Regions from separate parts of the Homo sapiens genome. Here all the other regions are reported to be linked to region 2. Evidence: microRNA targets listed by miRTarBase, many of them from high-throughput screens and not tested one by one. Region 2 holds a microRNA gene; each other region holds the end of a gene's coding sequence.

Evidence for each region. The annotated mature microRNA hsa-miR-1267 reads CCUGUUGAAGUGUAAUCCCCA and lies in region 2 at 3,618-3,638, opposite strand. An mRNA with a match to its seed (bases 2 to 7 or 8) in the 3' UTR can be bound and repressed. Matches are read on the target gene's strand: a 7mer-m8 pairs with bases 2 to 8, a 7mer-A1 pairs with bases 2 to 7 and ends in A, and an 8mer does both.
Region 1: miRTarBase lists IYD as a target of hsa-miR-1267. Seed matches in the 3' UTR shown: 7mer-A1 at 5,305-5,311, 7mer-A1 at 4,665-4,671 and 7mer-m8 at 524-530.
Region 3: the mRNA of CYYR1 is a reported target of hsa-miR-1267. Seed matches in the 3' UTR shown: 7mer-A1 at 4,957-4,963, 7mer-m8 at 4,897-4,903 and 7mer-A1 at 4,661-4,667.
Region 4: the mRNA of PTCD3 is a reported target of hsa-miR-1267. Seed matches in the 3' UTR shown: 7mer-A1 at 3,099-3,105.

Annotation. Positions count from the first base shown.
Region 1 is chr6:150,397,209-150,404,331 of GRCh38, reverse strand. It overlaps IYD (iodotyrosine deiodinase), which reads right to left. Exons shown (of 5, transcript NM_203395.3): 5 at 1-6,277. The coding sequence ends at 6,095. Among named protein-coding and RNA genes, the nearest start is that of IYD, 32 kb to the right of the region's middle. RefSeq lists a silencer at 425-719.
Region 2 is chr13:107,527,600-107,534,722 of GRCh38, forward strand. It overlaps MIR1267 (microRNA 1267), which reads right to left and starts at 3,649; the gene lies at 3,572-3,649. All of the region lies in intron 1 of NALF1 (NALCN channel auxiliary factor 1), which reads right to left. LOC112268110 (a long non-coding RNA gene) reads right to left here. Exons shown (of 3, transcript XR_002957493.2): 1 at 1-7,123.
Region 3 is chr21:26,462,834-26,469,956 of GRCh38, forward strand. CYYR1 (cysteine and tyrosine rich 1) reads right to left here. Exons shown (of 4, transcript NM_001320768.2): 4 at 3,383-5,801. The coding sequence ends at 5,668. The region is part of intron 1 of CYYR1-AS1 (CYYR1 antisense RNA 1); the gene reads left to right. All of the region lies in intron 1 of LOC107985474 (a long non-coding RNA gene), which reads left to right. Among named protein-coding and RNA genes, the nearest start is that of CYYR1-AS1, 60 kb to the left of the region's middle.
Region 4 is chr2:86,136,375-86,143,497 of GRCh38, forward strand. It overlaps PTCD3 (pentatricopeptide repeat domain 3), which reads left to right. Exons shown (of 24, transcript NM_017952.6): 22 at 147-188; 23 at 608-766; 24 at 1,095-5,783. The coding sequence ends at 1,185. Among named protein-coding and RNA genes, the nearest start is that of SNORD94, 4.1 kb to the left of the region's middle. RefSeq lists a silencer at 4,792-5,086.

The DNA.
Region 1 (7,123 bases), not on the chromosome of region 2:
AAGATTCAAATCACTTAAGGAGCATACACAAGATTAGTCCTAAACTTAACATGAAAGTATCAATATTATGGATTTGAATTATTGCATTATTTCCATAATGAATTCTACACATTCCCAGAGTTGGAAAATCATTTACCCAATAAGGGAACAGAGGTGCTATTTACTATTGTCAAGGACTCATGCCCACAATATGGTGGACAACTCAGATGAGCAGAGGTTGCTTAGGATCTCTGGTCATAAGACAGTACTCCAGCGCTGGGAGACAGTGCCCTGAGTGCTGTGGTTACTATGGGAACAGGAGGCTCCCAGTTTTCACCCTTCAGAGGGTTTTGATTTTAGAACCTTTATTCCAGTTACCTCCCAAGTATTATTTTTATTTTTAATTATTAGAGTAGAAGGAAGTTGGCGACTCCACCTAGGTTAGCTAACAACTTCCTTTATGATCTCATTGGCTTTTGCGTTTACTTGGCACTCTGCAGGCATTGCTAACATATTTCCATCCTGCTCTAAAGACATTTAAATGCTGTTGAATTCAATCCTGAACATTTGGCTCTGAGCCATGACTCTCAGGTCATGATAATAACATAAACCAATCCCCTGCCTCATGACTTTTTAGGAATTTCCCAAATGGGATTATAGCCTCTCACATTTCATTAGAACTACTGTATTTAGCTTGGCAGGATCTTAGCTTTGGGGGCTGTTCTCCCTTGAGCCTGCCCCTGGATGTGCTGGACGTCATTTGCTGAGGCCACCCAGATAGGGAGCAGACCTGGCATCAGCCTTAGATGCGTCAGCCCATTCCCTCCACTACCCTGCTGGGAGTTCCTTACCATTCCCACCTCCAGTTCTCTGCTATTCACCCTCTCTAAAAGGTAGATAAACGCAACGTTTTTTGAGTGTCCAGCCTATTTTGTGGGCTGAGTGGGGCAGGAGAAGGGAGGCACAGTAGCAGCAGAGCTGAAGCCACATTTCTTCTGGACCTCTCATTACTTGTATATATGTGTGAATTGAAAACACGATGTTACCTTTGTTTCCATTTCACACAAATTATAAGAGGGCACTCTGCTGATACCTAGCAAAATAAAATTATATTTCTCATGCCTCTCTGGCATAATATCCACTGATAACTATGTGTTTTTCTTCCACTTACTGATATTCCTAAAAGATGCTTACAAAATGTCTTTTAAAATATCACATCAGTTTGAATACTCTTTGGGAACTCCAATATTTAGAAAAACTAGCCTGGGTGTGGTGGCGTGCACCTGTATCCCAGCTACCTGGGAAGCTAAGGTGGGAGGATCACTTGAGTCCAGAAGTTGGAGGCTGCAGTGAGCTATAATCACACCACTGCATTCTAGCCTGGGTGACAGAGCAAGAATAAAGTAAATAGAGAAAACTATTGGTGGATCATCTTTGTAAGTTTGTAAATTTGGCTTAAAATGGGGTGCACTTTGCTGGGGTTTGAGCAAATGTGCAATAACTATTTACCCCCAATATCATGCAGCAGAGAAGTCACTCTTCCTTTCATAGGGAGGAGCAAATAAGAAGAAATACTGAACTGTCCTCCAGTACTCCTTGATGGAAGTTTCCATTTTGTGGACAGAGGCAGAGATGTCTAGGAAGAAGTCAATCTTAGTTCCACTTTATGTATGTTTATATCAATTTTCTTTGGCCCAAAGTGATACTCTATTTAAAGCTGTATTAGACAAATATCAACCGATCTTAGCGTTTCAGAAGAAAATCTTTATGCCTTTCACTGTCCTATTCTGATTTCACCAATTTCTTCAACTTTCCTTCTCCCCTCCTTTTCTTTTCTGTTATATCCAGTTTTGTTTTCCAAATCCAGAGTTATATGTTTTGGGGAAGAGACATCCAGCACCTACACACATCTGGGCCTCCTTCCTTGCAGGTGCAGGGGGATGATAACATTGACGACACTGCTCCACCTCCTGTGAGGTCACATGACTAGTTCTAGCCAAAGGGTTGTGAGACTGAGGAGGTCACTCCTAGGCCAAGGTACGATGGAATTGTTGGGGTGACCTCTTCCAGTGTTTTCTCCCCCTGCTGCCTCTAGGAAGGAGGCAGCCATGCCCTAGAAGTTGCATCCCACAGTATTACTGGGTTACCCCATGCAAGTAATTGTCTCGGAGGGTTTCCAGGCCTGCAGAGGACTTTGCCTGCCCAATAAATGAACTTTTATCACGTCAAGTCACAAGCATTGCATTTGTTGATTGCCAATGCCCCATGGTTCTCAAAATGTGGTACCCAATCACCAGCATCAGCAACACCTGGGAATACATTAGAACTGGAGCATTTGGGCACCACCCAGCAATACTGAATCACACAATCACACACCCTGAGGGTGCGGCCCAGCAATCTGTGCTTTAACAGACCACCAGATGAGGGATGCCAGCAAGTATGAGGACCATGGCTCTACCCCGTGCTGGCTGACACAACTTTGAGTTAAAAATTCCCTCTTGGCAAAGTAGAGTCTTCAGGTGAGTCCTATTAGTAAGACACAAACCATTTTCAACTTTCTTAATTAAGTATACTTCCTCGCAGTGATGCAATCATTCCATTATTTTTTTGGTTTTAAGGCCTCAGAACAGCAAGAGGATCTATAAGCCTCCCCGACCACTATTTCTAACTTTGAACACAGTTGTCACATGACTGCATTTAATGAACACATAAAAGAAGGTTAATAAGAGCTTGGGGCTGCAGTGAGAAGGAAGAAAATTATCCTTACTTTTCTAGACACCACTGATGGCTGGGGGGCTGTGCTGATTTGCCCTGATCGTGATGCTGCAGCAGAAATTAGTGTGGGGTGTGCTTGGGGCAGAAGAAGTGTCTGGTGTTTCTGGTCCCTAGAAGACCCTCCATTCCAAGGGGCGGCAGGCTGAAATGGATTTTACGTTCCTTCCAAGGGCTTCCTTCCTCTTCTTCATTACTCAGTCGGTTCCCTGCAAGCAATGTGAGCCTCTGGCCTTATTTCTCCTCCGATTCTCATTTCCATTCCTCAAACTCTCCAAGTGGGGGACATTCCAAAACAACCCAATGAAATAAGCATGATATCTGCACCTTCAGTAAATCGCTTAACCTAATGATGGACTTAGAGGGCATTTTTAGGCAAATTACTTATATGACTGAAAGAAATGCTTATTTAAATGTATTTCCATTCAGATTTGACTGTGTTCAAATATAAATTTAAAATAAGAGTATAATGAGAACTGTATATGCTCCACCTAACATTTTACCATGTTAGTTCTCGCTCACACTCTCCAAACACACACCTATACACACACCTTTTTTCCTGGAGTAAGTTGTCAATATGATGCTTCATCTCTCAGTACTTCAGCAGGCATCACTCACATCACTAACAATATCACCTACCACCAGATCCACATTCAACATTCCCAGTTGTCTTTTATACCTATGAGATTTTTCCTAAACCAAAATCCAATCAAGGCTTACGCTTTGCCTTTGGTTGTTGGGTCTCTGGTTATCTGCAACAGAGCTCAGACTTTAACAGGCATGCAGATCACCTGGGCATCTTGTTAAAATGCAGATTTTGATTCTGGATGTCTAGGTGAGGCCTGAGAGTCTTTGATTCTAACAAGCGCCCAGGTGGTCCCAATGATGATACAGGCCCAGGACCACTCTTTGAGTAGCAAGGACAAGACAGTCCCCCTCTTATTCTTCCCACAGTGACACTCACTCCTTAAATAGTCCAGGCCTATTTTTTTGTAGAATGATACACATTTTGGTTATTCCACCATGCCATTAACTTCTTTATCCTCTGTATTTACTGTAAACTGAAAATTAGGTGTAAGACTCGATTAGTTTCCATTGACATCTTTGGAAGGAATACTTCATAATTCATCCCAGCAGGAACACTTAATGTCAGTTATCCTACCATTAATGGTGTGCTAGGACTTTGTCACTTGGTTAAGGTGATGGCCAGATGTTTGCATTATAATTTTTAAAATAAAAATTTGAAGAGTGCCTGCAAAGAGTGAGAACCATGGGGCAATGGCAATCGATAACTCCAATGCTTCAGAAGTAAATAACCTGGCTGCAGATCAGATTGATAACACGAACTACACAGAGAAAAAAATCTTTCAAGTTGGTCTCTGATGGGGTAAGGCTGACTCCCTGCAGGCCAACTCCATCTGGCCCTGCAGCTGCCCCTGAGCCACAGGAGGGCTTCTCTGAAGAGGAGGGAGTCCCTCACCCACCCACGTTACATTTGTTCACCTGAATCCCAAGCAGGGCTGCCTTGCAGTGACAATGGTTTCTACCACAGTAAGGGCCCCCACCATTTATGAATGTTAACCATGTACCGAGCAGCATGCCAAACCCTATGAAGTAGGTGCCATGGACGGAATGTTTGTGTCCCCCGCAATTCATATGTTGAAACCCTAACCCCCAATGTGATGGTATTAGGAGGGGGTCCTTTGGGAGGTGATGAGGTCATAAGGACGGGGCCTCATGATGGGATTAGTACCCTTATAAAAGGCATGCCAGAGGCTCTAACCCTCTTTCTACCACGAGGACACAATAAGAAGTCAGCAGTCTGCAACCCAGATCAGGGTCCTCACCAGCACCTGACCATGAGGGCACCCCGACCTTGGACTTCCAGCCTCCAGAACTGTGAGAAACAAATTTCTGTTGTTTATCAGCCACATACTCTATGGAAATTTTTTATAGAGAGAGTTTTCTCAAGGAAAATGAGGACAAGAAGAAGAAACGCACAGGGAAAGGGGAAAAAGAGGTGAGTAGAGTTGCTTGATGAGAAATCATCCAAGCTGTAAGAGTTTGCCTCTGTAAATATGACACCCCTGGGAGGACGACAGAAGGTGATGGGTGAAGACTACATCTAGCATTCCCAACCTGGCAACTGTGACCCTATCAGTCCCAAACAGCTGTGCTGTCATCTGGAGAATAGGGGTCAGTGTGTTTCAGGGGTTGGGGTAGAAGAGAAGGGAGACACTGTGGGTGCTATGTATGGTAAGCAGCTCTCTTTAAGAAGAAGAAAGCAAGTGCTGATTTGTAGTGGTTGTGATGTAAACTCTCCCACCATGGGCAATTTCAAGCTATGAATGTTTAATAACTGTCTTGCAAGATTCTTGAGTATTGAGCAGCTTCTATGAACTGCTTACAAGTCAGATCTACCAAACCACTAGGCAGTGCAACTGACCGTTTACATGCCAGCCAGGCCCGTGCGACCCAAGGGTACCCTGTCCTGTTCTGTGAAGGTGACATTTTAGTAACTTTGTTTTTGTTTTTTTTGAGACAGGTTCTCGCTCTGTTGCCCAGGCTGGAGTGCAGTGGTGGCATCTCAGCATCTTGACTCACTGCAATCTCTACCTCCCGGATTCAAGCAGTTCTCTTGCCTCAGCCTCCTGAGTAGCTGGAATTACAAGTGCATGCCCAGCTAATTTTTTGTATTTTTAGTAGAGATGGGGTTTCACCATGTTGGCCAGGCTGGTCTCGAACTCTTGAGCTCAGGCAATCTGCCCACCTCGGCCTCCCAAAGTGCTGGGATTACAGGCATGAGCCACTGCGCCTGGCCATGTTTTAGTAACTTTGATGGTTACTTATTCAAAACTAGCAGAGTGTCCCTGAAGTTTGGTAAAAAAAAAAAAGTAGTTCTCAAAAATTAGTGTCTAAAAGCCACCAGAAATCAGAGAACAGGAGACCATTTGATTAATCTAAATTTAAATTCGAGTCATCATGTAGCTGAATTCTTGGGACTATGGTAAATTTCTGATTGTCTCCTCTATGTGAGTTTTTTAAAAATAAAAGAAAAAAGCCAATAGTGATTGTCTAGAATAACTTTTAAAATGTAAAAACCCGGGCATGTTCTTTGTAAAGTGTTCATGCATTTCCAAAGTGGATAAGAAACAGGATTTATGGGACTGGAAGTGCCACAGAGTGTGGAGAGGCTTCTTGACATAGTGTGGCCACCTGAGAAGAGCAATGAGGGGACCTGACACCTGGAGAAAGAGCAGCCAAGAGACCCAAGAGGAGCAGGCGAGAGGCTCAGGGAAAAGCAGGGGCGCCATCTCCCTGCCACTCCCTTGGGGGGCCCTGCCTACACTGTCACCATGATCTGGTCCAGAGGTTTGCGCTTGAGGTCAGGCACCGTGGCCTCCTTGCTGGGGTACCCCACGGGGAGCAGCATCAGCAGCTTTTCATGTGCGGGGCGGCCCAGGAGCACCCTCAGTCGAGGGCCACAGTTGAGAGGAGTGGTAGTGACAGTCACCAGACCTGCATTCTAAAATAAGAGGACAAGAAAGCATTTTAAAGTCAGCAGGCAGAATGACTGCTCTCCCTCTAACCTGGGGACCTTCTTGTCCTGATTATACCTGCTCTTCCTATCATTTCCCTGAAGTTGGGCAGCAAAGAGGCTGCCAGCTCAAGTAATGGCATCGTGAACCTCCCTGCCCCCATCAATCTCCCCACCCCCTCCCTTCTTTTAACCAAGCAGTGGCAAGCTTTTGGAAGAAGAAAAATACTATTATTTTTCATTGATGCTTAAGAAATAGGAATGGTTATTTTACAGAAAAATACTGTAGGAATCCAACTACAGTAGAGGAAAGGCAAAAACAACAGGGAGTTCCTTTTAGCTAAGGGGTTGGTCTGTGTCCTGGTACAAGAACCAAATGATAAGAGAGTCCACCAAAGCAGTGTCCTAGCCCAAATGCGACATAATTTTCCTACTAAATATACATATTCGGTTTTGTTTTTTGTTTTTTTTTTGAGACAAAGTATGGCTCTATCACCCAGGCTGGAGTGCAGTGGCATGATCTCGGCTCACTGTAACCTCTGCCTCCTGGGCTCAAGCCATCCTCCCACCTCAGTCTGCTAAGTAGCTGAGACTATAGGCATGCACCACCATGCCTGGCTATATTTTGTATTTATTTATAGAGATGGGGTTTTGCCATATTGCCCAGGTTTGTCTCAAACTCCTGAGCTTAAGTGATCTGCCCGTCTCAGCCTCCCAAAGTGCTGGGATTACAAGTGTGAGCCACCATACCTGGCCAATTTTCCTGCTAAATATTCTTTCCTGAACTCCAGTGATCTGCCTGGAATCTATGATTTGTTATCAATAACTCTAATA
Region 2 (7,123 bases):
TCCAAAGCACATATTGAATTGTAGCTCCCACAATTCTGTGTTGTCTGAGCCACCCGGTGGGAGATAATTGAATCATGGGGGTGGTTTCTCCATACTGTTCTCCTGGGAGTGAATAAGTCTCACAAGATCTGATGATTACATAAGGAGAAACTTCTTTCGCTTGGGTCTCATTCTCTCTTGTCTGCTGCCATGTAAGACGTACCTTTCTGCTTCTGCCATGATTGTGAAGCTTCCCCAGCCACGTGGAACTGTGAGTCCCTTAAACCTCTTTTTCCTTTTAAATTACCCAGTCTCAGGTATGTCTTTATCAGCAGTGTGAAAACAAACTAATACAAAGCCTAACTGAATTTTCTTATTTAAAAAGAATTCTTGTATTTCAAAAGAAGTTAGTTTACTACAAAGTAATATAAACATATCTGACAAAATGAATTGTCATTAGGAATATAACTGAAAGAACACCCACTGCTATAAAAATGCGAGTATATATAAACATAAACATGCTTAAATAGTCAATTATTTGGTAAAGATAACTGAAAATGGTCTCTGCAATTAATCTGGACAGTAATACCATAATCTGCATGTTGGTAATAGCAATTTTTAAAATTAACATGTTAGACCTATTAGAAAAAAAAATAGTTCCACAATGGGGCCAATATGTTCATGTAAATAACAGAAACTTTGTCATAATAAACGTTATGTCATAATAAGTAAGTTAAAACTATATATTCTGGTTAAAACAAAAGCCTATATAAATATATTCTAACAAGTAACTGTGTGACATATCAGTTACTTGTAACCTTTAATGGATTCATACGTTCTTTTAGATTAAAACATGTCCCTTTAAAGAGGAATTCACTGACTGGGTCACATAAACTTTTGTTTCTTTTTTACATTATGAAATTATTCAAATTATCCCAGGCTCCAAAACCCTCTCTCTAAAACAAGCCTCGAGGGGAATTGCCTAATTTCAAAGGTGTCAAGCATCCGGCAGGCATCAAGGGATAAAGGCCTGTTCTCCAGGTGCGCAAGCCAGAACTGAGAATAAATTTGGGTCAACATAGATAACATAGTAGGTCCTGAGGAATTACCCCATCAGAGAAGGACAGTGGATGAGACAGCCTCCTGATACAAGCTGATGTCAGGAGTCTCTGATGTAGGTAGAAGAGTCATTGAAAAGATTGCTTGTCATCACGACGATTCATTAATACGTACAGTAAAGGACCCAGCACAATCAGTTAAAGAACCAAAGAGACCAAATACTGCTACCAAATAACCAAAGAAACAAAAGCACAATGAAATCTTTTAATAAACAGAAAAGGACACAATTCTTTCTATCATGAACTGTTAGGTACATGGCCTCTGCCCATGAAACGTGTTCCTCTTCCTGGCTAACCCTGCTTATTTTCCAATAAAAGTATGAATTTTGGACCTTTTCTACAGTGTTACTCAGTCTCACCTCTGTTTTCCCACGGCACCCTGACCAGAGCTTTATCCATTCATTTATGTTCTATTTCATTTGCTTAACAAGATCTTCCCACCAGAGAGAGAGAAGCCTAATGCTGGAGACTTTGTCTTAACCATGTTAGTTCTCTCAGTGCTTAGCATATGGCTGGCTGACTCTCAGCAAGTGAAGGAATGGGTGAATACCTGCATAGTGAATAATTATTCAAGAGCAGAGAAACGAGACCATAGCTCTGGTATTAACAAGTTGTATGACTTTCAGAATCACTTCACCGATCCAGGCCTTCAGATAAAAAAGATGAGTAGCAATTGGGTAGGCAGTCAGGAAAGAGAATGCCCCAGATGGCAGAAAGGGAATTTGAAAACGGAGATTTAAGCAAGCAAAGTACATTAATGAAACAGCAAATTATTTGGTAATCTTAGATGTTCCTCAAACTTTCTGCTTTTGACTTTTCATACAACCCTCAATATTCACACTATATGTCCTAGATGTGTGCAATTCAGTGGTCTAATCTGGACTTCCAGATAAAAGGCCAGCAAGGCTGACTTCCAGCTCTTCCAAGATGGCCCCGCAGGACAGTAGCCAACCATTCACCAGCTTGGCTCCCATTGCAATGTGTGTGTGATGATTGGAAGATGTGATGAATTAATTACATCTTTTTCCTTTTTTTAGATCTTCCGTAAGCTCTGACTGCCATGTGAGAGAGGAACGGGCATCACCTGAAGGAAAGGATGATGTCTCAGGACTTTCTAAGAGCAACAGAATGTTGGAAACTATCCATGGTAGGGATGCAGTTGGCTAGTTACAATGCTTGACATCCCTTCATCTAGTGGCCATGGGACTCCAAGGTATCTTTCCATAAAGAACCAAAGCCAAACTCACAATCTGCCTAAACTGCTATTCTCAGCTTTCAAGAGGAAGATGACTGTTAATACCCAAGAGTAAGAATAAGAAGCAAGGGTTCTATAGCTAACTCATGCCTTCTTTCCACAGCTCACTCTTATTCAGCAATATGGGCTCCCTTAGCTCCAACCCTCAAATCCCCACCTGGGCACCTTTACCTTGTTCTCTCTCCACCCTGGGACACTCTCTCCTGCCTATTAATGAGGCAGGCTCAGTCTTATGCTTTATAGCTCAGTCATCTACTTAAGGAGGCCTAAAAGCTCTGTCCAAAGACAAAACCTCCATCCTAGCAAGATAGTCTGCCTTTGTTTACTTCATAGCATATATCCCAATCCATAATTATTTTTATATTTGTTTCCTATTTACTACCTATATCCACCACTAGCATGGATACTTTTAAGCTACTTGATCATCTACTATATCCCCAGAGCCATGAAAACATCATACATAGTAAGTGCTCAGCAAATTACTTGCTGAATGAATGAAGTATATCCATATAGACTGAAGCAAAATCTAAGACATTCCTCTAAATTTAATATTTGTAAGATTTTTTTTAAATGACAAGATTTTTATGTATGACCTGTGATCATTTTAGTATATTCATAACATGTGGATGTATGCAGAAGATGGACTCATTCCACACAAAAATGCCATTGTACAAATACTATCTGTTGAGGCAGCCCAGCAGGTACTACATGACAAATAGGAGGCAAAAATAATATTGCAAATCACCACAGCTATAGAGAAAACATAGTATCACTTACATCATATTGATGTAAGCTGAAATCTGTCCAGAGCTGAGGCTAATCATTTGTGAAAAGCAGCTGACAATATAGAAAGAACAAGCATCTAAGTTATATATGAACTATTTTCACCATTCTCCTTATAAAGTTTTAAAAATAATATGAAAACCAGCAGGATTGCCTGAAATGTGAAAAGAACACTGACGATTTTTATTGTGATTTTTAGTGGAAACATTTTAGTTATGTAAAAACTGTTAAAGGGATAGTCTTTGTACCCTAAAAAAGAACTCTGCTGAACATTGTCATTCACATATATATATATATATACATCTGAGATATTTTATTAGGATGCATTCCTATATTAGGAATTACAGAACTAAAGAGGATGGACTTTTAACATATATTTTAACATAGCTCTCCAGAAATAAAAAGTTCTTGACCACTGATGGAGTCCGGATATTTGTCCTCATCCAAATCTCATGTTGAAATGTAATCCCCAATGCTGGAGGTGGGGATTACACTTCAACAGGAGATTTGGGAGGTATTTGGATCACGGAGGCAGATCCCTCATGAATAGCTTGGGCCATCCTCTTGGTGATGAGTGAGCTCTTCTTCTGAGTGTATGGCACCTTACCCCCAACTCTCTCTCTTTTGTTCTGGCTCTGGTCACGTGACAAAGACTGTTCCTTCTTCACCTTTCACCATGATTGTAAGCTCCTGAGGACTCCCCAGAAGCCGAGCAGATGCCAGAACCATGGGTCCTATAAAGCCTGAAGAATCATGAGCCAATTAAACCTCTTTGTTTTATAAATTATGCAATCACAGGTATTCCTTTATAGCAATGCAAGAATGGTCTAATATAATCAGTGACACTAATCATCAATATTATCTTATTAATTTTCCCAGTTTATTCAACATCAAAACCAGTACATTTTAGTTAAACTCACATTAAATGTTTGTATTTTTTTCATTTTATGAGTTGTCTGTCTGTATTTTTTTCCACTTTTATCTCAGTATGCTCATCTTCTTTTGTTGTTGTTTGACTGGAATACGTGTTGCAAGTAATTTTTCCAGCTTCTCATTTGCATCTTTTTTATGATGGTGTTAGATATGCCAAAGTTTTGTGTCATGTGAAGTATTATCTACTGATACTCCCCTTAGAATTTTTAAAAATTAATTTTATGCTTATAAACTTCTCTGCCATTTTGCAATCTTCTATTTACGTATTTGTTTTCTAGATGACTAACATGGCTTTTTCACAATCAAGTTCATAACGCAGCTGAATTTGCATACTTACCTAACTTGAAAATTTTCTCTCAAATAGTGAGTTATCCTAGAAGCATTTAATAGAAAATGCTTTGTTTCTTAACTGACTTACAAGCTACCCTTTTGTATACTAAATCCTTTGATGTGCTAGGTTCTCCTCCAAGTTTCTTGCAGACAACCAAGAACAAAATGAAAGAGAAAGAAAGTGAACAAAAGTAGAGTTTAAAAAGCTACAGCCTTTCAAGGTCAACATTTTAAAGTAAAACAGCATCTTTTTCTTTGAAATCTTATGGATTCCCACAGTGTAAAACATGCTTCTATCTAATAATCAGTATTAAAGAATCTATTAAGAAATTTCAATGATTTTTGTTTCCCTTGGCTGAGCTCTCATTATGGACTGTTTTGCTGCTTCCTTTCTCTATGAAGAAAAATCATTCATTGCTAGTGTTTTCTCAGTGTTACAATGCTTTTCCAATAAGCGTTCATTCTAGTGGTGTGTGCTTCCTCATCAACAAACATGAAATTTATCTTCTTAAATATCAAGAGTTCAGGTTATTACAAAACCTAAGGCTTACAGTGTGGTATAGTCCAAAATCATACTCCATAAACTACTGGAAAATTAATCAAATTATATTACATGAAGTTTTTATATACTCATATCTTTTGACTTGAGGTATTTCAAATATTTGAGAATCTCTTATAGACCTCATTTCAACTTTAATTTTTCTGTCTCATGTGTTTGGTCCATTTATGTGATTTGCCTGGGACATTAATGAAATTCTCAAGAATGTTAATTTTCAGAAAATATAAATCCCTGAAAAGTTAGCAATTTAGAGATTATTCAGGAATATAATTTTGTGCTAGTTTCTAACGTAATATTGCAATTATATTAACTGAAGACAAAATATTGCCACCTAGACTTCAAAAAACATCTTAAAGGTAGTTGCAGAACTGTTAAGAAAACAACCTAAAAACAGTAGCCATTAACATATTAAAAATGATATAAAAATTAAGAATACATGCTAAGCTGGAAATTTAAAACATCATTTAGAAACCAGACACTTTGACTGGAGGCAGCTGTTGCCTCTCTTTTTGACTTAAACTTTTATTTAACTCATTCTACTAAAATTAATATCCCCACGAAAAGAGAGTTATAACCATAACTTTTAATGAGGCTCAGTTTTGCCCCTTTCTTTTTTCTCTGTTTTACATATTTTGTTTGTAAAGTGACTGTTAGAAACATTTATAGAAATTTACACATTTGAAATGCAGAGTGCTATAATTACGTGAGTGTAGGTTCTTTGCTATGGTTTGAATGTCAGATCCTCCAAAATTCATGTTAAAACCAAATCACCACAGTGACAGCATTGAAAGACAGGGCCCCTGGAAGGTGATTAGGTCATGAGGCTCCTTCACCATAAATGGATAAGGCCCTTCTGAAAAGGGCTTTCAGGTCTCTGCCATGAGAGGACACAGCCTTCCTCCCCTACAGAGGAGGCAGCCCTCATCCAACAACCGAACATGCCTGCACCTTGATCTTGGACTTCCCTGCCTTTTGAATGGTAAGAAAATAAATTTCTGTTCTTTATAAAGTACACAGTGTATGGTATTTTGCTACAGCAGCACAAACAAATGAAGATATTCTTTAATAACTGTTCAAATTAGAGATTCTGTGAATCACATAATTACCAGGAAAGGACTTGAGGAAGTATTCCAAAGGCCATCTTTCAGAAAACAAAACAAAACACACTCTCCAACAAAGCAACACCCCCAAATCTGTCTTTTGTTGAGGGTCTGTGATGCCTAACATGACACCATCCAGGATCATGTCTTCCGTTAAGGTCTCAGGAAAAGCTCAATACTTCTAAGGGAGTGTCTTTGTCATTGAACATAGGTAAAATCAGTTCTACAAACTGTTTGAAAATATAGAGTTAACATTAATGGGAAATGGGGAGGGGGAGAGACAAAAAGATCTATTATGACTTGGGGAGAACCAGGGGACCAAATATCCTGCAAAGAGGAAAATTACCTGTAAAAGGGAGAGGGAGACTGAAGAGAGCAGAGAGAAATGGAACGTGAGAGGGAAATCCAGGGTAATGATATAAAAATGTGGTCATTGGCCCAGTGGCATCAGCATCACTTGGAAATGTGTGTGAGATACGTAGGTTCTGGGCCCTCCCCAGACCTATGAAATCAGAAACTCTGCCGTGGTGCCCAGAGATGTATTTTCACAAGCCCTTCAGATGACTCTGGAAAGTATGATCTTTTTAGAGCCACAAACATGTTTACTTCAGAATTTTTGCCTCATCTTCCAATTAAAAACAATTTTAAAATTGCTAAAATATGTTTATATTTATTTTGATGCATATTAACATTTTCCTCTAAGAAAAACTATTTGTAATTCAGTTAAAAAAAGAACAAAAGGAGAGAGATGGGGAAAAGAGGAGCAATAAGGACAAAAGTTAATATGAAATACTAATGTTATTTTTTGTTTTCTTCCATCTTTTATTAAGTTCAGGTGTACATATGCAGAATGTGCAGGTTTATTACATAGGTAAATGTGTGACACAGTGGTTTGCTGAACAGATCAACATATTACTTAAGTATTAAGCCTGGAATGTTAATTTTATAATATACAAATAAGCCAGTATTTCCTACATTTTAGCTGAGGAATTTGTTAAAACATGCAGACCTCAGGCATCTCTCTCAGGGATCTGGGTTAAGCAAGTACAGTGCTGATGCTGACTGT
Region 3 (7,123 bases), not on the chromosome of region 2:
TGCACTCTAGCCTAGGTGGCAGAATGAAACCCTGTCTCTGAAGAAAGAACAAACAACAATTAAAAAAGAAATGACAGGTGATACACACTCAAAAGCTATTCATGACTGGGTTAGAAAAAGGAGAACAGAGACTGGGCACGGTGACTCACGTCTGTAATCCCAGCCTCTGGGAGGCCGAAGCAGTTACATCACCTGAGGGTCAGGAGTTTGAGACCAGTCTGGCCAAGATGGTGAAACCCCATCTCTACTAAAAATACAAAAATTAGCCGGGTGTGGTGGCTCGCGCCTGTAATCTCAGCTACTCGGGAGCCTGGGGCAGGAGAATTGCTTGAACCCCAGAGGTGGAGGTTGCAGTGAGCTGAGATTGTGGCATTGCACTCCAGCCTGGCCAACAAGAGCAAAACTCCATAAAAAAAAAAAAAAAAAGTGAGAGCAGAGCAGAAATAGAAATCAAAGTCTAAATTTTTTTAAAAAACAATTTCTCCTTCATGCTTCCAGAGAAGGCAAATATTCCTAACACATGTTCCCCCAGTTCCAACCATTTCCTTGGATTGGATGTTTATTTTTAGGGAAGGCATTCAGGATTAGCTTAGGTAGCAACTTGATCCACTGAACACTCATCTGGGAACTTGTCTTGGAATTATTTTCTTGATGAAGATTAAATATCTAGGAACAGAGTTGAAACAAAGGTTAGAACTGGGACTATTTTAAGACTCGTCCATAAAGGTATGTGGTGTATGTGCTGTACTTCATTCCCTGCCTAATACGATGGGCTTTAGTGCAGCTCATAAATGAAGTTCATGAGAAACACAAGCCTTGTGTGTATCTTTTCAGTATTTCTTAGGAATGTAGCACTTATCTAGTTAATGTGGTCCTTGAATGTTGCCAGCTCCATTCTGCTCCTGTTGGTTCAATAAAAGCAATTTGATCACAGCCAAGCATGGCTTGGGATTCTTTCAGCTGTTGAGTTGGTACATTCTTATTAGAGGGAAGGTATTATCTTCTACATTGCCTAAACTCTAAATAATCAACTTAAGGAGAGTAAGATAAAATATCTTTGCTATGGTACACCAACTACTAAGATGGCCCCCAAAGCTCTCTGCCTCTTGGTTTCTGTGTCCTTGTGTAATTCCCTCCTCTTTTATGTGAGATGAACTTAGTGTCCTGATTCTAAAGAACAGGTTATGGCAAATGTGATGGGATATCACTTCCAATATTGGATTTCGTAAGTCTGTGACTTCTGTCTTCCTAGCACTCTCTTCCACTCCATGGCTCTTCTTGCTTGCTCTGGGGGAGCAAGCTGACACATTTAAAGTTGTCCTACAGAGAGGCCCATATGCCAAGGAATTGAGGGTGGTTTCTGGCCAATAGCTAGTGAGAAAATGAAGCTGGCACAAAAGCCTCGGAGGGACTGAATCTCGTCAATGACCATGCATGGGAGTGAGCTTGGAATCAGATACTTTCTCAGTTGTACATTGAGATGACAGCAGCCTGTGACAGTCCCTGAGCCAGAAGACCCAGCTAAGCCACCCTCAGATTCCTGATCCATAGAAACTGAGATAATACATGTTTCAAGCCACTAAGTTTTGAGTTAAATTTGTTACACAGCAATGGATAACAAATGCACCTGTTTATAGAAGTGGTGAGGCTTCGGAGTGGGGCATAAAGGAAAGAGAATATGTATATTCAGTTGCAACTATCAGAGTCACCAACCCAGGTAGGATCTTTGTAACAGATGTTCTACATATATTGTTTATAATCATTGCAACCACGTGGCAAGGATGGTGTTATTCATATATTTTGAATGAAACTGAGGTTATGGAAATGTTGTTATTTGGCTCCGTACATGTAGTTAGAAGATGACAGAGATGAGAGGGGAAACAAAGTCTCCCTTACTCTGAAGCCTTGGTTCTGTCCCCTGCATTAGAGGGATGTTAGAGGCCTGAGTGGGGTTAAGTAGGCTGGAAATCAGAATCACCTGTGGGTTGCTTTATAGTTAATCATGTCACTTTCCTTTTCTGGAGGTCCTGACAATGTTTATACTGAACCACACTACACAGTACAGTTGCACCAAAGAGTTTTGCTCTTGCACAAGTTCAGCCATATCCCATGCAGCTTGGCCCCAAATCAGAGAATAAAAACTATGCATTTCAGATAGGTTTTGATTGAGAATATGGTAGTTCTTGGATGCCTCTGTGGTGATTAACAAGGTGACCATGTGACTTTGGCATTCTGGTGTTAGGTTGTTTTAATTAAGTGAAAAATTAAAACAATAGTACCCAGAGCTCCACTATTTGATGAGCTTAATATACAATCTTATGTGTCCCAGTCCCTACTTTACCTACAACCAAAAGTTGGCAAAATGAGTTTGGTTAAACAAGGACAAGTTGGAAGTAGAGTGGATGTATGATGAGTGCTGCCGTCATTTGGTGGTGGGAACAAGATTATGAAAAAACAGAAGGGTAGCCTACAGCCCTGCACCTTAGGAAGATTAGGTAGCCCCACATGCTCCTGTAGTGGCTTCTGAAGCTGGGTAGGCAGCTGCAGAATTGATTAGACTCTGAGAACAGGCTGTGGCTCTGTTTCACCAGCTCTAACATCAGGTCTAAGGTCTCTCTCCTATCATCAGCCCTTCAGCTCTTGCAACAGCTTTCCTGCCCATGGCTCTGGAGAGGGCCAGATTAGCCTCTCGCTGCTCATGGTTCTCATGCAAGTTATTGTCTTGCTTCCATGGGAATGGACTCTCCACACAAATAAGTGAAAGACATCACAATTAGCTGACAAAGTCCATAGTTTCTCCTGGAGGAGATTGGAGTGGTCTCTTTTTCAATGACTTCCTGCTATCTCACTGCGTTTTTGCATAGATTTCTCTAGAGTGGCACTACCCAATAACGTAGGTAGCCCCTAGCCACATGAGGCTATGCAGCATTTGCAATGGGGTTAATGAGACAGATGAAGTAAATTTTTCATCTAATTTCATTTCAATTAATTTAAACTTAAATGACCATATGTAGCTGATGATTGCTGTGTTGGATAATATAGTTCTAGAGGTTGTTCTCATTATATTGTTGTTTTGTTAATTTATTTTGGGCTAATATTTATTGGACGTTTTCTATGTGCCAGGCACTATACTTAGAGTTTTGTATATATTCATCCAGTTTTTGCAGAATGCGATGAGACTGATAATATTATTTACATTTTCCAGAGCAGAAAGTTGAATCTCAGAGATGAAGTAGCCTGCTTCAAATCACACAGGCAGGAGACAGGATTCAAAATAAAGTCTGTCTGGCTCCAGCCCTGTGTTTCCTGTACAGAAGAATGAGGCAAAGTCAGCAGAAATAGAGGGTGAAAAAAATGGACACAAGACAATGAAAATATAATCTGTGTTATAATAGGTTCTTTCACTTTATTGCTTATTGTAAACACTTTGGCCATAGCAAATGTTAGTTTTTAAATAACCGTAATTCAAAACTTTCACATCCTATACTATTTTTCCCCAAGAAGCATCATCTATGAAAACAATCAGTGAACTCCAACAGTCTATACTGGTAATGTGCACATTGATGCTATTATGACACTTAATACAAATAGTAAAAATACTCATCTATTGTAGGCTTATGGGTTTGTAAAATGCCTTAAGGGAGGCCATAAACAACTCAAAGAAGAGATGGTGTGGACTGAACTGGCTTCTATTTGGGGAAAATTTGCAGAATATAGGAGGTACGCAATAAATGTTTATTGATGGTGAAGATGAGAAAACCCTATTTCTGCTGATCTTTCCTTTCCGTTTTCCTTAAAGAATATAAGGTATATTTGTATTCAGCATTCTCAGAATCATCACAGAAACCCTGGCACTTTGAGAGTCTTAGCCACAGTGTAATTGGGTCTGACCACACGCAGAAGAAAAATAAATTAAAGCATATGTACTATTAAAATTGCACTGAAAACTTTATGTAAGTCAGGGAGCCCCTCACCAGAACAGGCTGAAACTCTTGAATGCTTTGCATCCTCATATATAAGAAAATCATCAGTGCTTAAAGATCAAGGAACTCATTCAAAACAAATTCAGCCTTTGGACCTTACTGGCAGGTAGGTTATATTTCAGTCAGATCAATATCTTTCTAATATAGGTATTTGAAAGTAATATATGCTACTTATAATAATGATATAGTAAGCTTCTTATCTGCAAGTACAGGTACTATAACTTACACCTTAAAATGCTTTGTTTGATTGTTTCATTCAGCAAAATTCTTGGCACTGTTTTGGGATTTCACTGAATTTTGATGATGATATTGGATTAAGCATTTTAGATTTAATTGTAAAATGACACAAAAATCTAATCATCTATTTCCAATGTTCAATATACAATTTTTATAAATACATGAAACAATTCATATAAAAATATAAATGTTAAGGTCACTCACAGCAAAATATGGCACATTAGAATTATTTATTAAATGCTTTATACATATAAAGGTAGGCACTTCATAAAATTTGCATTTTGGTAAAAGGCAACAATTTGATGTCAGTATCTTAATTGTGTCATTAACTTTTTTAAGAGAACAGATTATCAAAATTTTACGAAGAAGAAAAAAATAATAGTTTTAAGGAAATCTACAGAAGGGAATCTGAACTTCATTTCCCACTTTATTTTTGCGAGTCTGTTGTGTATCTTCATGGTCAAGTTCTGAGATTTTTGCTCCCTGACCTAAAATCCTGTGGGAATAATTGATTTCTCATCTTTTACTTGGAAGTGAAGTGTCTGCTACCTGTGGAACTTGATACAATTTTTTTTTTCTCCCCACAGTTAGAATAACCTTTATTCTGATCCACTATAAAGCCAGATGATTTTTAGGTGGCAGTAGCTGGCATTGAAGAGTTCTTGGCTTCAAGCGGCTGTTGAGTCTTTTTGGTCTTGTTTTAACTCCCTAATTAAATAAATAAGATCCAACTCTTTCTGTTGTATTCACTCCTGGACATATAGAAATTCACTTCACACCCACCTAAAATACGAGCAGAACTTCTGAGGCCCAATGAACCCATCTACTATTTGATTTTGTTATCCCTTCTGGAGCGTGTCTCTACCAAGAGCTTCACAAAGCAATCTAGTCATTGCTCTTTCTTGTACTAAAACCAGAGTACCCGTCCTGTAACTTCCATCAGGACCTCAAACAGTGCTAGGCACATAGTAAACTCTTAGGCACTCAAAATACATTTATTGATGAATGAAAGAATGAACAATTCTAGTTCTGACTTTTAAAGCTATATAGAATAAAGTTGCTTCCTTGTGTGGGCCAAATCATTCTCCCATCCTACTTAGATCTTCTTTTTTTCCAGGATCAATACTGAAACTTTCTTCACCTAGCCCTTAAACAACATGATTATCAGATATTTTGTCAATTACATTACTCTTCCCTGAATGTGCTTAGGTGGATCAGCAGATCTCTTAAAATGTGGTTCCATAGAACCAAACATTAATACTCCAGATGGGGTCAGCTTTGAGCAGAGTAGAAATCCTATATCTCCTAGCAGGGATATTCCACCTGACACATTATCTGACCCCAAAAAGTATTCCTTGGAGCAATTCTTTCCTGCCTGTTTCTGAGTAGAGGCATTTTATTCCAGGCAAGATCGCCCATTGGCACATGTTCTGTTCTGGGAGATAGATTATTTCCTTGCGTTTCCAGGATAAGGAGGGGGTGGAGAACGCTGTGCTGGACCCTGTGGGGTGGGGGAGTATGGAGGAGGCAAGTCTGCACAGTATTCCATCTCGTGGTCGTGACCGTAGGGTGGTGGTCCTGCTGAAAAAGAAGGGGAAGAGAACATCAAGGAGTTAGCAAATATTTGCATTTCTACTGTGTTGAAGCCACTGGGCTAGATACTTTGGGAGGGGACATAAATTGTGGCTGCAAAAATCTTAGTTTTATTAGGTCAGGACCACATATGTATGAAAGGGTAAGTGCTCTAAAATGTGGTATCATGGGTCAAAGTGTTAAGAACTGGTTGTTTAGAGAAAGTTTCTTGAAAATATGATGCTGAAGTGGCAGAAAGAGAAGGTGAGGGACAATTCAGGTTGATCAAAAGCACTGAAGCGGGAGAGCCCTTCATCTCAAGCAAAAGTACATGAAAGGGAGAATGGGAAAAGACAATGAGGAGTGCGGTTATATCACCATGGTGGGCTCTGAATGCAATGTAGAATGTATAACATGTAGCTATCAGAGATTCTTTGAACATGGTAGTGAATATGCTTTGAGAAAACCACTCTCAGCAGTCAACAGAGGCAGAGGTAGATAAAAGAAAAGCTGCAACAATGTAATGGCATATGTGAGGGATGATAAGGGACTCATGACAGTGAGGGAAAAACATTCTAACAGTCCTTGAGCAACCAAGTCTTTAGGTGATGACTGGGTGTGTGGAGAAAGAGAGGAGAAAGTGAAAGAAGGGGTTGAGGTATTAGGTACCAAGTACAGGACTCCTATAATTGGAGGGGGGTGGAACCATTACAGAAATATGAAGAAGACAAAAAAGGAGGACAAGTAGGTTAGGAAATGAAGATGAAACATTTAATTTTCTGAATCTTATATGAAAAATTTTCTTTATTTTGTTACTGTACCATATGTCAGTGTTTTAAGAAAGTTTTTAAATTTTAAATAATTTTATTTTTTTGAATTGACAAATAATAATTGTACATATTCATGGGGTACAGAGTGATGTTTTGATATGCATAATGTATAATAATCAAATCAGGGCAACTGGCATACCCATCATCTCAAACATTTGTCATTTCTTTATGCTGGGAACATTTAGTATCCTCCTTCTACCCATTTGAAACTATATATTATTGTTGACTATAGTCATCCAGTGGTATAGAACACTGGAACTTATTCCTCCTATCTAGCTGTAATTTTATATCCTTTAATAAATTTCTCCCTATCCATCCTTTTTCCTACCCTTCTCAGCCTCTAGTATCCTCTGTTCTACCTTTTAATATACTTTATGATGACTATACATAAAAGTCTATTTTGTAGTGGTTTCAGTTCCTTTCTCTAGTGTTGAAAAAGAAGTACTCCTTGAGCTGAAATTTATCCACGTTTCCAAGAACTGAATCATTTTGCAACATCTG
Region 4 (7,123 bases), not on the chromosome of region 2:
AGAGCCCACAGATGTGTGTCTTTGGGAGCTTACAGTATAGTTAAGAAAAGGGCATTTAGTCTCTGATTTCAGAGAGAAGACAGCTATAGTGTCTGATTGCCTTGTTTTTCTAATAGTATTCATAATCTTTTTCCTTTCTTGAGCAGGAAAATGTTGGGGCTTTTCAGGAAGCATAATAAGATTCCTAGGTAAGTTGAAATCAGCCAGCTCTCTTTGGGTACAGCCTGGAAGTAGCCACATTTGGAATTTCTTCACCAGCCTTAGCCACCACATTTGGGCACTCTTCTGTTAGGCAAGCATACCGTCAACTCCCTACTATCCAGGGCATCCTGAGGCAAGCAGTTTTTTATCTGTGTTGACGGATCATCATACATTGGGGCTACATTGAATAGATCATCATGAAGTCATACTGAATGAATGTTGATAATCCATTTGGCCCTTTAGACTTTCTAACCTCACTGGAAACAAGTAAAAATAAATGTTAGACTTCATCTTTGTCTCCAGAAATACTGTTGGGAATTCTGTTACTGAACTTACACTGGATCTTGCCTATAAATGTTTTACTGAAGGGGCTGGAGAAAGTTCACACTTTGCCTTTCTTTTACAGAAGTGAGTTGCTGAATGAGCTTATGGACAGTGCAAAAGTGTCTAACAGCCCTTCCCAGGCCATTGAAGTAGTAGAGCTGGCAAGTGCCTTCAGCTTACCTATTTGTGAGGGCCTCACCCAGAGAGTAATGAGTGATTTTGCAATCAACCAGGAACAAAAGTAAGTGGTCACCATGAAGCATAGTTTGTAAAATGGAGACCTTTCATCCATCTGCCCATTCAAAATGTTCATAGCTTTCTATCCCTTCTATTTCCTTTCAAAAAGTCAGAATGTAGTAATTTAATGACTATTTCATTTGTCATGCAAGTCAGGAAAGCCTATAGATTTGACTGTTAGAAGCTTTTTGTTTCTAATATAGTTTAATGCAACTGCAGGGTCCCTTTTTCTGATTTCAAAACTGACAGGCTATAGGTGAGTGTCAGAGACACCGAGAACCCCAGCACCCAGTTGAATTGCAGTGTAATCCTCCATTTTCTTTTCTTAACAGGGAAGCCCTAAGTAATCTAACTGCATTGACCAGTGACAGTGATACTGACAGCAGCAGTGACAGCGACAGTGACACCAGTGAAGGCAAATGAAAGTGGAGATTCAGGAGCAGCAATGGGTCTCACCATAGCTGCTGGAATCACACCTGAGAACTGAGATATACCAATATTTAACATTGTTACAAAGAAGAAAAGATACAGATTTGGTGAATTTGTTACTGTGAGGTACAGTCAGTACACAGCTGACTTATGTAGATTTAAGCTGCTAATATGCTACTTAACCATCTATTAATGCACCATTAAAGGCTTAGCATTTAAGTAGCAACATTGCGGTTTTCAGACACATGGTGAGGTCCATGGCTCTTGTCATCAGGATAAGCCTGCACACCTAGAGTGTCGGTGAGCTGACCTCACGATGCTGTCCTCGTGCGATTGCCCTCTCCTGCTGCTGGACTTCTGCCTTTGTTGGCCTGATGTGCTGCTGTGATGCTGGTCCTTCATCTTAGGTGTTCATGCAGTTCTAACACAGTTGGGGTTGGGTCAATAGTTTCCCAATTTCAGGATATTTCGATGTCAGAAATAACGCATCTTAGGAATGACTAAACAAGATAATGGCAGTTTAGGCTGCACAACTGGTAAAATGACTGTAGATAAATGTTGTAATTAGTGTACACGTTTGTATTTTTGTTAATATAGCCGCTGCCATAGTTTTCTAACTTGAACAGCCATGAATGTTTCATGTCTCCCTTTTTTTTTGTCTATAGCTGTTACCTATTTTAGTGGTTGAAATGAGAGCTAGTGATGACAGAAGGATGTGGAATGTCTTCTTGACATCATTGTGTATTGCTGGTAATCAAGTTGGTAACGACTACTTCTAGCAGCTCTTACCACTATGACTTAAGTGGTCCTGGAAGGCAGTAAGTGGAGGTTTGCAGCATTCCTGCCTTCATGAGGGCTTCTACCACTGACCACTTTGCACGTACCTGGCTCCCAGATTTACTTAGGTACCCCACGAGTTGTCCACATAAGCAGCTTCATCTTTACCTTGCCAGAGTTGACAATTATGGGATACTCTAGTCTACTTATACTTGTGTTCCCATCTGTCTGCCATCCTCTGAAGGCCGGGACCCAGTCATACATCCTTAGAAACCAAAGTATGGTTTTTGTTTTCTCTTGGAATGTCAGGTCTTAAGGCATTTAATTGAGGGACAAAAAAAAAAAAAGCCGATATAGTAGCTAGCTACTTAAGCATCCATGGGTATTGCTCCATATCAAAGCAGATTTGCAGGACAGAGAGAGTAAATTAGCCTTCAGTCTTGGTTTACAGCTTCCAAGGAGAGCCTTGGCCACCTGAAATGTTAACTCGGTCCCTTCCTGTCTCTAGTTCATCAGCACCTGCAGATGCCTGACTCTTGTTAGCCTTACTATTCAATACAGTCCTTAGATTCACGGTATGCCTCTTCCTATCCAGGCACCTATTCTGAATCACCATGTTGCTCTGCAGCTAGAGTTGATAGGAGAAAATCCATTTGGGTAGATGGCCTATGAATTTGTAGTAGACTTTCAAAATGAGTGATTTGTTAGCTTGGTACTTTTAAGTTTGTGGTACAGATCCTCCAAACCCATACTCTGAGCAATTAACTGCCTTGAACATAGAGAAAAATTAAGGCCTCACAGGATGAGTCTCCATTCTCTGTAAATGCTTATTTTATCATAGTCTTTAGCCTCTACTATGAGTAAAATGTTCTCTTCGGCCGGGTGTGGTGACTCACACCTGTAACCTCAGCACTTTGGGAGGCAGAGGTGGGAGGATCACTTAGGTCCAGGAGTTCGAGACTAGCCTGGGCAACATAGTGAGACACCGGATCTACAAAAAAATAAAAAGCCAGACTGGTGGTATGTATCTGTGTCCCAGCTAATTGGGAGGGTGAGTTGGGAGGATTGTTTGAGCCTAGGAGAGGGAGGTTGCAGTGAGCCGTGATTGCACCACTGCACTCCAGCCTGGGCAACAGAGCAAGACCCTGTCTTGGAGAAACCAGAATTTTGGAAGAGCAAATGGGGCTGAGTGCAGTGGCTCATGCCTGTAATCCCAGCACTTAGGGTGCCAATGTGGATTACCTGAGCCCAGGAGTTTGAGACCAGCCTGGGTAACAGTGAGACCCCCCTCCCTACAAAAGATTTTAATAATTAGTTGGGCGTAGTGGTGCATGCCTGTAATCCCAGCTACTCTGGAGACAGGTGGAGGGGATTGCTTGAGCCTGGGAAGCTGAGGCTGCAGTAGCCATGACTGCACCACTGCATTCCAGCCTGGTTGACAGAGTGACCCTTGTCTCCAAGAAAAAAAAAAAGCAAATGGGATTAAGGACTCATGGAATGGGAAGGGGAAGGGGAGTCTTACTATATGTGGAATAAACTTGCTCAGTGTTGCCACAGAGTTACATTACCAATGTGTAGAAGTCAGAAACTAGACTTCTAGTTTGGTTCAACATTTGAGGGTTGTTTTATAGCCATCAAAGTATTCAAGAGGTTGGATGGCACTCAAAAGATTCTACATGTCTAGAATCAAACTCAAATCTGGCACGTAGGTGCTTCTTAGTAAATGCTTAATGAATGCCACCAACTCTGCAAAGTATTCATTGATTTTGAGACCTTAGTCATGTTGCTACTAAAAGTAGGGCATATGACCGCCTAAGAAACAGAACTTCGAGAAGTCCTAACGTAACCACAGTAAAGCAGACTCCCCTTTCAGCAACCTCAAAGCAAAAAAAAAAAAAAAAAAACCAGTTAGCTGCTATATAAACACTATACCAAGCACTAGGCTTAGAGGAAAAGATGTCAGATTGTACTGTCACTGGCTATGTACCCATATTCTCTAAGACAGGGTAGCATTTGTCTTTCAAACTGCAGGGTTTGAAATCAGTTTTTGTGGGTGATTGCAATTTTTTAATGAAATGCATTAGAACATCTAAGCACGTCACCTACAGTTTTGTGATGGTGCATTTTTGCATTGCAGTATAGATCTGTGCATAGATATATGCATTAAGTGTAGCAAATCGTGATGTAAATTTTTTACTGCTGGTCATGGTCAAAAAGTAAGATACGCTAGGAAATTGAGTCACTAGGAGCATGGATGTATAAGGCAGGTTTTATACAACCATTTAGATTCAACATTAATGGTAGAGTGGCATTTTACCAAAAAAATGGGTGTATTTGATTTGGGTGCTGTAAGGCAATTTGCTAGGACATGGGATAATCAGATTACACAAAATCTAGGCAGTGAACAAGTCTTCATCCTGGCCCAGGAAATAGCCTATTAAAAAATGCTGTCCAGGCCAGGCACAGTGGCTCACACCTGTAATCCCAGGACTTCGGGAGGCTGAGGCTGGAGGATTGCTTGAGTTCAAGACCAGCCTGAGCAACACAGTGAAAACCCATCTCAAAAAAAAAAAAAAAAAACCAAAAAAACTGTCCAGCTGTGGACTTTCAGGATTCAGGACTGCTGGGGATCAAGCCCAAGGATGTTTTTCAGAGCTCTGTGATTTAAGATGCTCGAAAAGAGTGTCCAAGAGGAGTAAAGGTCATGACAGAATTTACTCCCAGGACAATCTAAGTTCTGCCACAAGTACCCGTGGTGTCTGTTCCCACAACAATGGCCCTTTCACAAGCTCTTGCCTCACAACCCCTGCAGAAGTCCTTCAACAAAACTAATAATAGACTAGTGAAACCTACTCCTCACATGGGTAAGAGTTGCAGTGGGCAGGTGACCCTCCTCCCTGCCCCCATCCTTTGCTTCCTCAAGCTCCCTGCCAACCTCTGGATACATCAATGGGAAGGAAACCAGGGAAGCATAGACCTATAGTACAACAGGGGTGTAGTGACCACTGGACCTGATGAAGCGAATCTGCCTGAAATTTAATACGCCTTTTTATTTCCCTTCTGTGTTAAATCAAATGATCTGTTCTGCACTGAGCCAAGCAAGTTACTTTTAAAACTGGTGGCACCACTCATTTGGGACTTGGAGACTGCTTTTATCCAGAACCTGTTAAGAGAACAGGGGATTTAAATACAAAGGAATATGAAGGTGGTGTGCCTTAAAGACAGTCTAAAATTAGGTTTTAGTTTGTTACATTATTTTGAAATATTAAACATGAAAATGTTAAATCAGGATGTGTGAGTTTTAAGATGTTGAACACTGTCCTACATCAGTGAGGAGGGAGGCAATAAAGTAATTTCAGAGTAAAACAGATTGAGGATGAAACCAAGACAGAAGTGATGATTTGGCTTTTTATGATTTTTGCTGTGGAAATGGCAGTCGTGTGACTTTTCACTTGCAGTTTAAATGAAAGGGTGAAGAGAAGCCTACCTGCCCTAATGGCTCAGGGCTATATCCACCTCCCGGATAACCCTGGCCCTTGGGACTCCATCATCTCCTTGAAGTAGCACTGAGAATCCAAGAAGAGGCTCCGCTGCTTTTTGCACATGTTACTGAGTTACATCTCAGGAAGATTTTTAAGCACGAGGAAGGAAAATACAGGCCTGGCCAAGCAGGGTCCCCTTTTCGGTATCATCTTTGTTCCTAATAAGCAATCAAGGGGGGTGGGTGTGTTGGCTGGTAAAGGAACTACTAAGATTCAGAAGCTTGTAGTCTTCATTATTTTGTTTTACAGGTTAAAATAAACCACTTGACTGGGCACGGTGGCTCACACCTGTAATCCCAGCACTTTGGGAGGCCGGGGTGGGCAGATCACAAAGTCGGGAGTTCGAGACGAGCCTGGCCAACACAGTGAAACCCCATCTCTACTAAAAATACAAAAAAATTAGCCGGGCATGGTGGTGGGCACCTGTAATCCCAGCTACTCGGGAGGCTGAGGCAGGAGAATGGCTTGAACCTGGGAGGCAGAGGTTGCAGTGGGCAGAGATTGCGCCACTGCACTCCAGCCCAGGCGACAGTGCGAGACTCTGTCTCAAAAAAGAATAATAATAATAAATAAACCACTCAGTATTGCTGCTTCTAAGTTCAGACAGATAATCACATCTGAAGGAAGTTATTTCAGGGCTCCAAGAGAAACTTAGATTTTCTTATAACCTATAATATTTTACATATACAAGTCGAATGGAAATTATAAGCATTTCTAATATGACAAATAGGGAAGTTTAGCTTTACAAGTAATGTATTTTGCAATTTTGTGCCATTCGAAAAAGGAAGACTGAATTTAGAACAGTCCTATTATCTCCTAATAAAAACTTAGTATCCTCTAGGTAGGTGCACAGAGTGCCTCTGCCTTTGAGATGACGGGCATTAATCTCAGGAAGGAACACAAAGCATGTGTTCCAATCAGAAACTAAATATATTTTGTTGAATTAAGTAAATCCACTTAGGAGGGAATATAAGGACTATTGACAACATTAACACAAGCCAAAGGTGGACCAATATATCCCAAAATCAAAGGACAAGGCCAGTGCCATACACCTACAGATGCAGAAGCTGCCCCTTTTGTGATTCCAGATGTGTTGCCCAGATAAAAGTGCCTCCTCAATTTCTTTGTGAACACACAATCCCCAACAAACAGTTGTAATTTTGAAGAAAGTTGACATTTTTATGTAGAGATGGTGGTCTTCATGGAGTAAAAGAATTTGTTAGTGCTTATGCAATATGACAGTTGTACTAATCTTTAGAAAGATGAACTGAGAAAGTTCTCTGGGTTTTATAGCAATCTACATCAAATACACAACAAAACTATTTAATCTCTTCATTAAGATTCCAGGCTCCCCATCCCCCCACTTTGAAGGGATTCACAGCCCAGGTACTAGAAAGAACTAAGCTCCATTACCAGTGTTTTAGAACTGTCAGCTGTGACCCATAGAGGGCTGCTGAATTAACTTGTGGGTAGAGACCAACATTTTAACAAGTCACTAGAACGATATATCCCCAATTATAAATACATGTGGCACTTTGGCTTGTATATTACTCTTTTGAGTCTGAGCAGCAGGAATCAATTCACCAAAACCTTCAAAGGCAAAAAGCAGGCTG